Homo sapiens: one gene and its partner. The protein of the gene in region 2 interacts with the protein of the main gene of each other region in a pairwise test. Each region holds a gene or a part of one and is shown on either strand. Other genes may lie near its edges. The genes, in order: SOX5 and SHOX.

Region 1 (7,298 bases), on a different chromosome or scaffold from region 2:
GTGTGGTGTGCAATAGATAAAGTCCTCTAAAGAAAATAATTGCTTATTTTGTGGTGGATAGCAAGGAAGTTAAAAACAGGCTCTTTTTCCCTCTTTCCCCTCATGCACAGACTTCCATCTTTAAAGTAGAGAGATGGAGAAGGTGGAGAGAAGTAAAGAGAAATTCATTTTTCTTTTTTTTCTGTCAGGTGCATTACAAAGAAAAAAAATGAAAGGAAAGAAAAAGAAAAGGAAAAAACCCAGAAACCCCAAAAAACAAAACAAAACTTTTTTCTTTTTAAAAATTGTAGCACAAAACAACAAAACACATTCACAAGCCACTTGTTGGCACTGTGTACCTGAGTGAGAATTTCTAGAACATTGTAGAACAAACAGCCATAAAGTTTATTTAAAAAAAAAAAAAAGTTGACGGGTAAGACTTCAGTGCTTGGATGTAGCAGCTGAATTACTGGCATTATTTTACCCATAGCTTATTTCAATCTCTTGTTGTTGATATTGTTGTTTGCTTGTTGTATTTGTTTTTTCTTTCCAAGCCTTTTGAGGCTGAGGTCTATTAGTCAGCTGATGTCCCAACTATTTAAGACTAACAGTTAAAGTAACAGTCAGTGTATGAGAAAGTTAATGTGCTTGGCCACTGGTAAGGATGAACCAGTTAGGGCTTCTTTAAGTCCTAAGGTCACAACAATCTTTTGACCCTTATCAGTTGGCTTGTCCTGCAATATGGTTTTCACTGTCACTCCCATAATCTACATCTGGATCATCCTCTTCCTCGTCGTACTCATCATAAATTTCTCCATTGATGTCCTCGGCCTGTATCTCTTCTTTGATATGTGGCTCCTCTCCTTTCACACCGTAAGTGCTCTGGATAACAGGCATCCCAGGCTCTGGGCTGCTAGACACGCTTGAGTGCTCCGAGGGCAGGTGAGGGGAGGGCATCCCAGCCATGGCGATGGCTCCAGGGTACACAACACCAGCAGTGGCAATGGGGATCTGTGCTTGTTGCCTGTCAAGAAAGGAATTTCCAAAAAGACATCGTGGGTAAGTGAATAGTTAGATGTGGACTTTACTACATAATTAATTTGCTCAGCAATGTCCAATTCTAAGGTACTAATTTTATCTAATTGCCTAACATTTTTCAAACTCCATCCTACTTGAACTTTAATACCTTGTTTTTCTTTTCTTTTCTTTTTTTTTTTTTTTTTTTGAGATGACGTAGTTTCGCTCCTGTTGCCTAGGCTGCAGTGCAATGGCGTGATCTTGCCTCACTGCAACCTCCCCCTCCAGGGTTCAAGCGATTCTCCTGCCTCAGCCCCCCAAGTAGCTGGGAATACAGGCGCCTGCCACCACACCTGGCTAGCTTTTGTATTTTTAGTACAGACGGGGTTTCACCATGTTGGCCAGGCTGGTCTTGAACTCCTGACCTCAGGTGATCCACCTGCCTCGGCCTCCCAAAGTGTTGGGATTACAGGCGTGAGCCACCGCACCAGGCCTAATACCTTATGTTTAGGTAGTGCTTTATAGAGTACAAGATATTGACATGTGTTGTCCATCTTATTCTTAATCCTGTTTGTTACTACTGTTTTATTAAAAAACTGAGGTGCAGAAAGATGAAGCAGAAGAACCCAGGTCCTTGATTCCAAGTTCATTTTTCTTTCATTATAACATGCAGAAATAGTATTTTTCCCTAGAATTAAATCTAAAGATAATTAAATTTTAATGGGAAAATCCTAAAGCATTAGAGTTCTCAAAATAAAACTTTACTGCCCAGAACACACCAGAACTGAACAAATTCACACTGTCCACTGAGTCTCTGAAACAGTTCTGGCCTCGTAGTGGTAGGAAGCAGGAGCAGCTTCATGGATGTACAAACTGTGCAACTGCACTAAGGTCCCATACTTGGTTTAAAGTTGTGCTGCCACAGACTTGAAATTCTTAATAACTTTTTAACAAGAGACCCTGTCTCCTCATTTTTGCATCTGGTCCTATAAATAATGTAGGTGGTCCTATTGGAAAGGATGAATAGATGATGTGCATTTATGCTTGTTTTTATTCATTCGTATGTTTACTATTTGCCCAAGAACTGTTGGGCATTGTGTTTAGCTTTGTGAGGAGTCATGTGCTTGCATATGAATCACAGACCACTGGACAGAGCATGCAGCCTCTTCCAAGGAACTGGAGGGGACAGAGCAGATTTGGAAAGGTTTTATGAGTCCTTCTCTGCCCATATTTAGAACAATATTTATTATTCTAAGAAGCTCTTAGAAACTAACTTCTGTTTCAAATATGAACAACTTTATTTTGGGTTTTTGAGAGAATTCTATAGAAGCAATGCATTTCTGTAGCCCATCTACAGCACTGTCAACAACCTTGCCACGGGAGCATTGTAAAACATCTCGGAGCTGCGTTCTCAATTCAGAATGAAACCTCCTGTTCCCAACCTTGTTACACCCTAAATATAATCCCTAGCTTGTGTGATCCACAAAGGCCACACATGTACCTTGATAGCTCACTAACCTCTCTATATTTAGAAATAAGTATTTTTGCTTTTGAAATGATTTTTATTTTGTATTGTCTCAACAAAGTTGTTAGTTTTAGAATTTATCATGGTGAAGCTTAGGAAGTAATGCAAACCAATGAAGAAAAGAACCAGTTATACTTCTAAGTTTTTAATAGAAAACTTCAAAATCATTTGCTTGTAGATATCTTGTTTTTAAACCAGTTGTTAACAAATCTCATGGTAGAGCTAGGAACTTGCAGTGGATTCATATGGACATATTTTTCAAGATCATGTGGGAGACTATTTGTCTCTGAAAATACTGTGAGCTCAGATTCTTTTTCAAAATGTCTTTTTGCAACTGAACAAATATGTTTCACATCCCATTAAGTATAACAGGAAGTTTGCCCCATGAGAAAAATGACTAAAAGGTACATACCCAACATTGAAGTACTGCCGCATTTCCTGCCGCCTGTTGCGCATGATTGCCTTGTATTCACCAATGCGCAGCTTTTTGCCATCCACCAGGCAGGTGCGCTTTGGCCTGGGCTTGTACTTATAGTCAGGGTACTTCTCCAGGTGCTGCTTGCTGAGACGGGCTTGCTCCTCATAATATGGCTGTTTCTCTAGGTTTGTCATAGCTTTCCAGCGAGATCCTATGAAGAAAGGAGGTTAGGATTCCAATTTGCACAGCTTCTAAGCATTCCAGAAAGTGATATGGCTGAGAACAAGAAAATCTAAAGTTGAGATGTTAGCCAAAACCCAGAAATACATAAACCTGTTTTTGATTAGTGAGATCCCACAAGAACAGAGGTGGTGGTGGTTTTGTACCTAAAGATATAAACACTGGGCAGTATTTTTTTTTTTCTGGTTTGCATTCTAGCCAAACTTTTGTATTATGTCCCTTAAAGCTCATAGATAATTTAATGGATACATTTCTCATTTCTACATTAGATCATGATATAATTCACATGTGAACAGAAAAGTTACATGATATGTTATCATGCATTTTGAATCTGAGACTAATTATCTAGTTATTGAATATTTTTATGTGGGAGATGTTTTTTACTACAAAAGTTCCCAACATATATCATGTAGTCTCATCCTCCCCAAAATGTTTAAGTATTTTAAGCTTACAGGAATGGTAGTAATTAAAAATTCCTTTGATTAAACATTTAATTATAATTAAAATTATAATATTAATAAACATGGAGTGGGTAACTACTATGTGCCAGACACTGTGCTGAAACCTTGACATACTGATGTCTTTTTCCTACCTTTCACCTCAATCTTATAAAAGAGACAGCATTTCTATCTATTTTCATAGATGAGAAAATTGAGATTCAAATAGATGGACTAACTTAGCCAGGGTCATAATTACTGAAGTACAGATCTGTGACTCAAACTCAGATTTGATATAACTTAAATTGTGCTATAATGTATGCCCTTTCCTACATATGGCCACCTACTATACAAAATATAGCAGAGGTCACAATTACTGTAAATGCGTATTACGATTTTCTCTTAATAAATCAATTTCAATAACATACAAAGACGTCACTTCCCATGATACAGTCTGCTTTAGTAATAATAACCCAAATTGTTTTCCCCCTTTCTTTTCACTATTAATTTTGGTGTGAATTTAGCTGGGATTAAAAAAGACAAGTTTGAAGCTTAAATAAAAATAGTTTATGCTAATTCACATTTTAGATATGGTTTAAAACTTGGATTCTGTCAGTATGGCTATGTGTAATAGAAGTGGTAATGTGTCCGGAATTGGTGGGTTCTTGATCTCACTGACTTCAAGAATGAAGCTGCGGACCCTCGCGGTGAGTGTTACAGTTCTCAAAGGCGGTGTGTCCGGAGTTTGTTCCTTCTGATGTTCGGATTGAGAGGTGACAGCGTGCTGGCAGCCCTCAGTAGTAATAGCGTTTTTTTTTTTTTAATAGTGATTTAAAAATCTATTTGCAGATGAAGTGTGTTTATCTGCAAATAGTCATCTCAACTCAACGCGAATGCACAAAGACCGATAAACTGGAACTAGGATATCCCTACCAAATGGCCTTATACCTGCCTTCAAATGTCATCTAAGTAAGATCTTAGAATCTTTCGAATGAGTTCATTACTCACCCGTAACTCCCTATCTTAAATGCAAATAGCTCACTGTTGAATAGTTCTTCCTTACACATGTAAAGAGTTCCTCAATATGGGCTGTTACATTTATTAAAGCATACAGTGAAAGAGGCAATATCTCTTCCCTTAGAAATGTTACCATTGGAAGAGATATTGTATTGCATAGGTATAAATATAGATTTTTCCAAATCTAGAAAGCCAATGTGAATTTATTCTATTTACAGTATAAACTCAGGTTACAGTGCAAATAATAGAGTTTCTTTTTCTATTCCTTTCGTAAACTTCTGTTTAAATAGCATCATCCAACATTAGGTTGGTTGGTCAAGCCATATCATTTGTAGGGACAATCTCAAACTCCTTGTTGGCCCAGCATTATTCTCTGAAGATACTTGAATACCATTATGTTATTCTCAGGGCCTATATAAACACAGATATGGTTATGATCCTATTGAACTAGAACAACCGTTTTCATTGAGTTTCTTCCAAGCATTTATACCAGTTTTTTGAACTTCAGATCAGGGAGTGGAAAGTGAGCTTACCATAAATAACTCACAAATAGGAATACACTGATAAATGGATCAAGGATGGTTGATCTAATATAAAATTTATTAGCTAGCTTTATCCCAAAATTCGAAAACGAAACCAGCATTTTCTTTTTTTTTTTTTTTTTTTGAGACAGAGTCTTGCTCTTTCGCCCAGGCTGGAATGCAGTGGTGTGATCTCGGCTCACTGCAAGCTCCACCTCCCGGATTCACGCCATTCTCCTGCCTCAGCCTCCCGAGTAGCTGGGACTACAGGCGCCCGCCACCACGCCCGGCTAGCTTTTTTTTTTGTATTTTTAGTGGAGATGGGGTTTCACCGTGTTAGCCAGGATGGTGTCAATCTCCTGATCTCGTGATCTGCCCGGTTCGGCCTCCCAAAGTGCCGGGATTACAGGTGTGAGCCACCACTCCTGGCCAAGCATTTTCAATTAGAAGGGGAATTGCCAAAGATTCTTCCCTAAGTTTAAATGATCTATACGCCAAAAGGCTTTGGCCTCTCAAAGGAAAGAAAATGTTTATGCTTAGAAGTAATCTGCCTTGGAATGCGAGAGCTGTTTGTTTGTATATTTCCTACTATGTACATAATGTTGCATTCATTCCTTAATAAATATATAGTAGTGAGTGAATACAGAAAGTTATAGTTCCTGTCTCTTTGCAGCTTATATTCAGTCAGGGAATATACATTAAATATCTAATTACAAAATTTATTATTTTCCTTATAGTTGTAGAAAGTACAGGAAGGTAAGAGAATATGATGAGGCAAGATCAATCCTCTGCAGGTCAGGAAGGCTTTGCTGTAGAAATGACTCCCGTGGGGCTCACAAAGAGAAGAGCATCCTATTGAGGAAGAATATAATAGTTGAGGTCTTTCGGTGGAAAGAGGAGTTAGACTAACTTAAAGAAAGCTGGTCTGGCTTAAAAAAAAAAAAAAAGAGGAAAAAAAGATGCGTGTATGTAAAGAAATGGGATAATAAAAGATGTGTAAATTCTCAGATAAGTTGGCTTCCAAATCTGGCATGAACGGGAATTATAAAATAGTTTAACTCTTGATAGTATAATTTCTTTGAGAGTATCACTGAATCCTAAATTACACTTTAAAATATGGCCATATAATAATTCCAAGTCTTTTCAAAACTAAGAATAAAGATAGGCTAAGTACTAACCGGGTCAAATGGCTGACTGACTACTATATTTTATGACAGTACAGGGCAGTGTTTCCATTTGGTGGTAAATCCAGTTTTCATTTTCAAAATAGTAACCTTGAATTAGCTTAACCAACTGACAAGTTTGGTTTTGATTTCAATGGCTTTGCAGGTACTATAACCATTGTATGCAGCTGAGGTGTTAACTAACCCCTGAAACATACTTGATGAGAATGGCAGGAAAATATTTTGGATAAACAACAATAAAAAAAAAAAAAGAGAGAAAAAATATCTACTTGATTTGGGGGTGGCTGGCTGCTTACTCTGGACTGATGTACAGGGAGTTTATTCATTCCCTGCTGCTTTCAAAAGGTTGTCGTTTTAGAATAAAAAAGCAGAGAAGGAGGGATAGCATTAGGAGATATACCTAACGCTAAATGACGAGTTAATGGGTACAGCACACCAGCATGGCACATGTATACATATGTAACTAACCTGCACATGGTGGACATGTACCCTAAAACTTAAAGTATAATAATAATAATAATAATAATAATAATAATAATAATAATAAAAAGCAGAGAAGGACAATTGGGTTTTCCTCCTGATGACAAAAGAGGAAGTTTCAATCAAAAGTATTTGATGCTCAAAATAGGGGAAAAAATAAGGTCCAACGATTATTCCTTTCCTTTCTAAATCTGGCAATACACTGAAAGTGAAGAGTTTGCGCTGGGCAACATTGTCATCTCCGTGGGGTCTGTAGTGAATTTGCACATTTTACTCCAACTAAACTACTGTATATCTAATCAGAAAAAGATGTCCCTCTTCCCCTGATCTAGCGCCAAGCAGTAAAAGGTGATTCCTTATGTTAACAATTTCAGCAGAATGGCTTATTAAAACCAGATTTTAGGGTATTATAAAATGCTTAGAAGCCCTTTAAAATGTCAACTACGATCCCCAGAGACTACGTAAAATGTCAACCCAGCT
Region 2 (4,592 bases):
TCGAAAACTGGAACAAAATAAAAGTTAAAAGCACACACATCACCGGCCGGGCCCAGACGCGGGTGGATCACGAGGTCAGGAGTTCGAGACCAGCCTGACCAACACGGTGAAACCCCATTGCTACTAAAAATACAAAAATGAGCCGGGCGCGGTGGTGCAGGTGACTGTCATCCCAGCTACTCGGGAGGCTGAGGCAGGAGAGTCGCTTGAACCCGGGAGGCGGAGGTCGCGGTGAGCCGAGATCGCGCCCCTGCACTCCTCCGGCCTGGGCGACAGAGCGAGACTCAGTCTCAAAAAAAAAAATAAATTAATTAATTAAAGAAAGTGGAGAATTAGCAGCTCTGACTTGATTCAAATCAGGGCTTTTTCCTCTGTTTTTTTTGCCACCTTCTGGGGGGACGTTGGCTGAGAAGCGGGGAGGTAGGTTTCAGTAAAGGAAGGGGATGGGATACAAGCAAAAGTCAATGGTACCTCCCGATCTAAGGCTGGGGGGCAACACTGGGTACCCACCCTGGAAATGCACGGAGCAGAACAACACTCTGTGTTCAGCCACGGCCGACTCAGGATTTTTTTTTTTTTTTTTTTTTTCCAATAAGCCTGTCCTCAGGGGAGAGGTTGAGAATTTTTTTTTTTTTAACACTTGAATACAAATATTTATAAGTTTATTTATATCTCAGTTTTACAAGATGTACATTCATACTACGGGGCGTCACAAAAATACAGTCTGTTGCTGCAACTCAACATTGAGATTATTGAACGTTAGGAGAATGAGGGCGTCACCAGAGAAACTCAGGGTGGTTTTTTTTGGTTTTTTTTTCTGTTTGTTTGTTTGTTTTTTTTCTACCCCTCACCGCCTGCCGACAATAACAGAGGGATAGAAATGTGAAGACTGTTGGTTTGGGAAACGGTGTGTGATTTGTTTTCATCTGAAGCAATCCCTGAAAATATCTGTAGATGTATTTGTAACCCGGACGCGGGGGCCGCTATGTCGTCAATGGGGGAGGGAAAAAGAAAAAGCAACAGTTTTCAGAAATATAAAAATAAATGCAACGCGATGTCAAATTTACACTCGACATAATTAAAATAGTACATATTTATGAACGTCCGACCAAGGAAAAAAAAATAAATAACAAATGCACATACATCACAAAGTAAGAAGCAGGGGCTTTTGCCTCCTTCCCACGGGACCTGCACGTACAATGGGCTGAACTCGTGAAGCCACATCCCCTTTCAATAAATAGCACATTTCATAGCTTTGAAACGGGATATTGTCTACATTCCTTAACCGGCTTCTCATTAAATATCAAATTTCAATAAAACATTTATAAATGGCATCAACTTACCCACGTGTGTCGAAGAATATCAGCATATACTCGCTAAGCTAATTCTCTTTAATAAATTAGGCACCAGTTTTTTTTTTTTTTTTTTTTTTTTTTTAATGTCAAACGTGTCCACCGAAAGCCTCTCTCCTCCCCAGACCTCCCAAAGCTGGAGGAGACAAGCGGCTTCCAGCAAAGTGCCTCCGAAATGTGTGTCGTGGGAGTGGCTGCCGTGTGCCATCCTCGCTATGTCCCCGGGAAAACTGTGGAGCTAAAGGGAGCTGGAGGCTTCTGCTTGTTCTTAGGGGAAAACAAATGTTAGAAAGGTCAGCATGAAACCCAGAGGCGAGGACAGAGGACTCTGGTATTTCCCTTTCATCCTGACCAGAGCTTGGCACCAAAACCTGAAACCCGTCTCGGCTTCATTTCGGTTAAACGCCCAGCTGTCCCCAGACTCTGCGGTATCCACAGATGCTCCCACGTGCTGACGTGGCCAAGGACAGCAGCAAGACCAGAACAGAAACTCAGGCTTCCAAGGAAATGGGACCATTTCGGGGGCCTGGCTGGACTTTGGCGGGATGGAGAGGCCATTCCTACGACAGGGCGTCTTTGGAGCGGCCCAAAGGCCTCCTTCCCGTACGGGAGACACCAAGCCCGTCGCACCACCAGCTTTGTAAGTGGAAAAACGGGTGTTGGACGCGGTCAGTTACGCTCTAAATCGTACAGAGGCACAGAATCTGTCCCATCTCTTTATCCACGGCGCTGGAGAAGACAGCCACAGCCAAGGGGCCCTGTCACCACTGCCTGTGAAACAACACCCCAACGGCCACCAGAGAAGGTGCATTTTTCTAACTCTTGGCAATTGCCAGGAACACACCTTTGCAAAGTATGCACCAGTCAGAGACTCGAACGGAGAAAGAAAATCTAATAGCAACATCCGATACATCCAATTCCTTCTCCCTGTGGGTGCTTCGCAGTCAGAGAGAGAGAAAAGAGAGAGAAAAGTGGATATGTCAGAAACAGATTTCACCAGAACAGCCACTCAAAGGAAGAAGTGTTTTTTGCTCAACTGCGGCGACTGACAACCCTCCACGGACTATTTGGCCAAGTTTTGGGGAGAGGAGGGAAGAAAATACGTATCAATCAGGACCCAACCCAGCATCGTTCAGTTCGGCCAGCAACGTGTTCCTATCAGTGTGCTGGAGCTGGTACGGATCTCACACACCAAATCCTCTCTCTGCAACGGCGTTACATCGGAACACAGCCCACGTTGCTCTCTGGGTGGTATTCCTTGCTCTGCGAGCGAGCTCACCGGGAAGCCACAGGGAAAGCAGGAACGTGACTTTCAAAAGAACCTTGTTTTGAGCAAAAAGCACCAAGAATCGCCAGCGTACACCCACCCCATAAATTCAATTTCTCACCTCCTGTGGAGAGACGTATGTTGTTTCCATGCTGAATGTTCACGCAAACGTGTCTCTGGAGGGCCTTCCGGGAAACCAAACCCACGCACATCACATACAGAGGGTCCCCATCAGCCCAGTCCTTCCTAAACATCTCAGAAAAAGAGAGAGGAGGCCGGGCGCGGTGCCTCACCCCGTAATCCCAGCACTCTGGGAGGCTGAGGCGGGTGGATCATGTGAGGTCAGGAGTTCAAGACCAGCCTGGCCAACATGGCGAAACCCGGTCTCTACTAAAAAATACAAAAATTATCCGGGAATGGTGGTGGGTGCCTGTCATCCCAGCTACTTGGGAGGCTGAGGCAGGAGAATTTCTTGAAGCCAGGAGGTAGAGGATGCAGTGAGCTGGGATTGCACCACTGCACTCCAGCCTGGGTGACAGAGTGAGACTTCATCGAAGAAAGAAAGAAGAAAGAAAAAGAAAGAAAGAAAAAGAAAGAAAGAAACAAAAAAGGAAAAGAGAAAGAAAAAGAGAGAAAGATAAAAAGGAAAGAAACAGAAAGAAAGAAAAGAAAGAAAGAGAGAAAGAAAGAAAAAGAAAGAAAGGAAGGAAGGAAGGAAGGAGAAGGGAGAGAGAAGAGGGCGTTGGTGGTGAGAACTGGTCACAGCCCAAGCTGAATTTCTTACTTCCTTCCATCCGAGAGTTTCAGGGAGAAAGAAGCAGCTAGCATACACGTACCCCACACTCATTCAGGGATCACTCATCCACCTACAGAAAGTCACCCAACTTCTCTCGCAGGAGAAAAGCCAAAGGCAGCCAGTGTCCACAGACACTCGTGTCCCACCCTCACAGTTCTCTGCGTTTGATCTGCTTCGGGGACCCATTTGTGAGGATGACACTTGGCCCTCTTTCCATATTAAATCAAACTGAAACCGTCCCCGCACAGTTGAGAGTCAGTAACTCCCTTTTAAAAGTTCAGATTCAGGCCAGGTGCGGTGGCTCACGCCTGTAATCCCAGCACTTTGCGAGGGACAAAGCGGGCAGGTCAACCTGAGGTCAGGAGTTTGAGACCAGCCGGGCCAACACAGCAAAAACCTGTCTCTACCAAAAATGCAAAAAAATTACCCAGGCCTGGTGGCAGGTGCCTGTAATCCCAGCTACTCGGGAGGCTGAAACCCTGTCTCTACTAAAACTACCAGAAAGTTACCCAGGCCTGGTGGCAGGTGCCTGTAATCCCAGCTACTCAGGAGGCCGAAACCCTGTCTGTACTAAAAATACCAGAAAGTTACCCAGGCCTGGTGGCAGGTGCCTGTAATCCCAGCTACTCGGGAGGCTGAAACCCTGTCTCTACTAAAAATACCAGAAAGTTACCCAGGCCTGGTGGCAGGTGCCTGTAATCCCAGCTACTCAGGAGGCCGAAACCCTGTCTCTACTAAAAATACCAGAAAGTTACCCAGGCCTGGTGGCAGGTGCCTGTAATCCCAGCTACTCGGGAGGCCGAAACCCTGTCTCTACTAAAAATACCAGAAAGTTACCCAGGCCTGGTGGCAGGTGCCTGTAATCCCAGCTACTCGGGAGGCCGAAACCCTGTCTCTACTAAAAATACCAGAAAGTTACCCAGGCCTGGTGGCAGGTGCCTGTAATCCCAGCTACTCGGGAGGCTGAAACCCTGTCTGTACTAAAAATACCAGAAAGTTACCCAGGCCTGGTGGCAGGTGCCTGTAATCCCAGCTACTCGGGAGGCCGAAACCCTGTCTCTACTAAAAATACCAGAAAGTTACCCAGGCCTGGTGGCAGGTGCCTGTAATCCCAGCTACTCGGGAGGCTGAAACCCTGTCTCTACTAAAAATACCAGAAAGTTACCCAGGCCTGGTG

The links.
Region 1: the proteins of SHOX (region 2) and SOX5 interact in a two-hybrid assay, tested with the Homo sapiens proteins (one study listed by IntAct).

What each region holds. Positions count from the first base shown.
Region 1 is NC_000012.12:23,533,520-23,540,817, forward strand, and holds part of SOX5 (transcription factor SOX-5), read right to left. Parts: intron 3,151-7,298; coding exon 2,934-3,150; intron 1,004-2,933; coding exon 700-1,003; 3' UTR 1-699.
Region 2 is NC_000023.11:647,638-652,229, reverse strand, and holds the end of SHOX (short stature homeobox protein), read right to left. Parts: 3' UTR 646-4,592; downstream 1-645. UniProt on the Homo sapiens protein: Controls fundamental aspects of growth and development.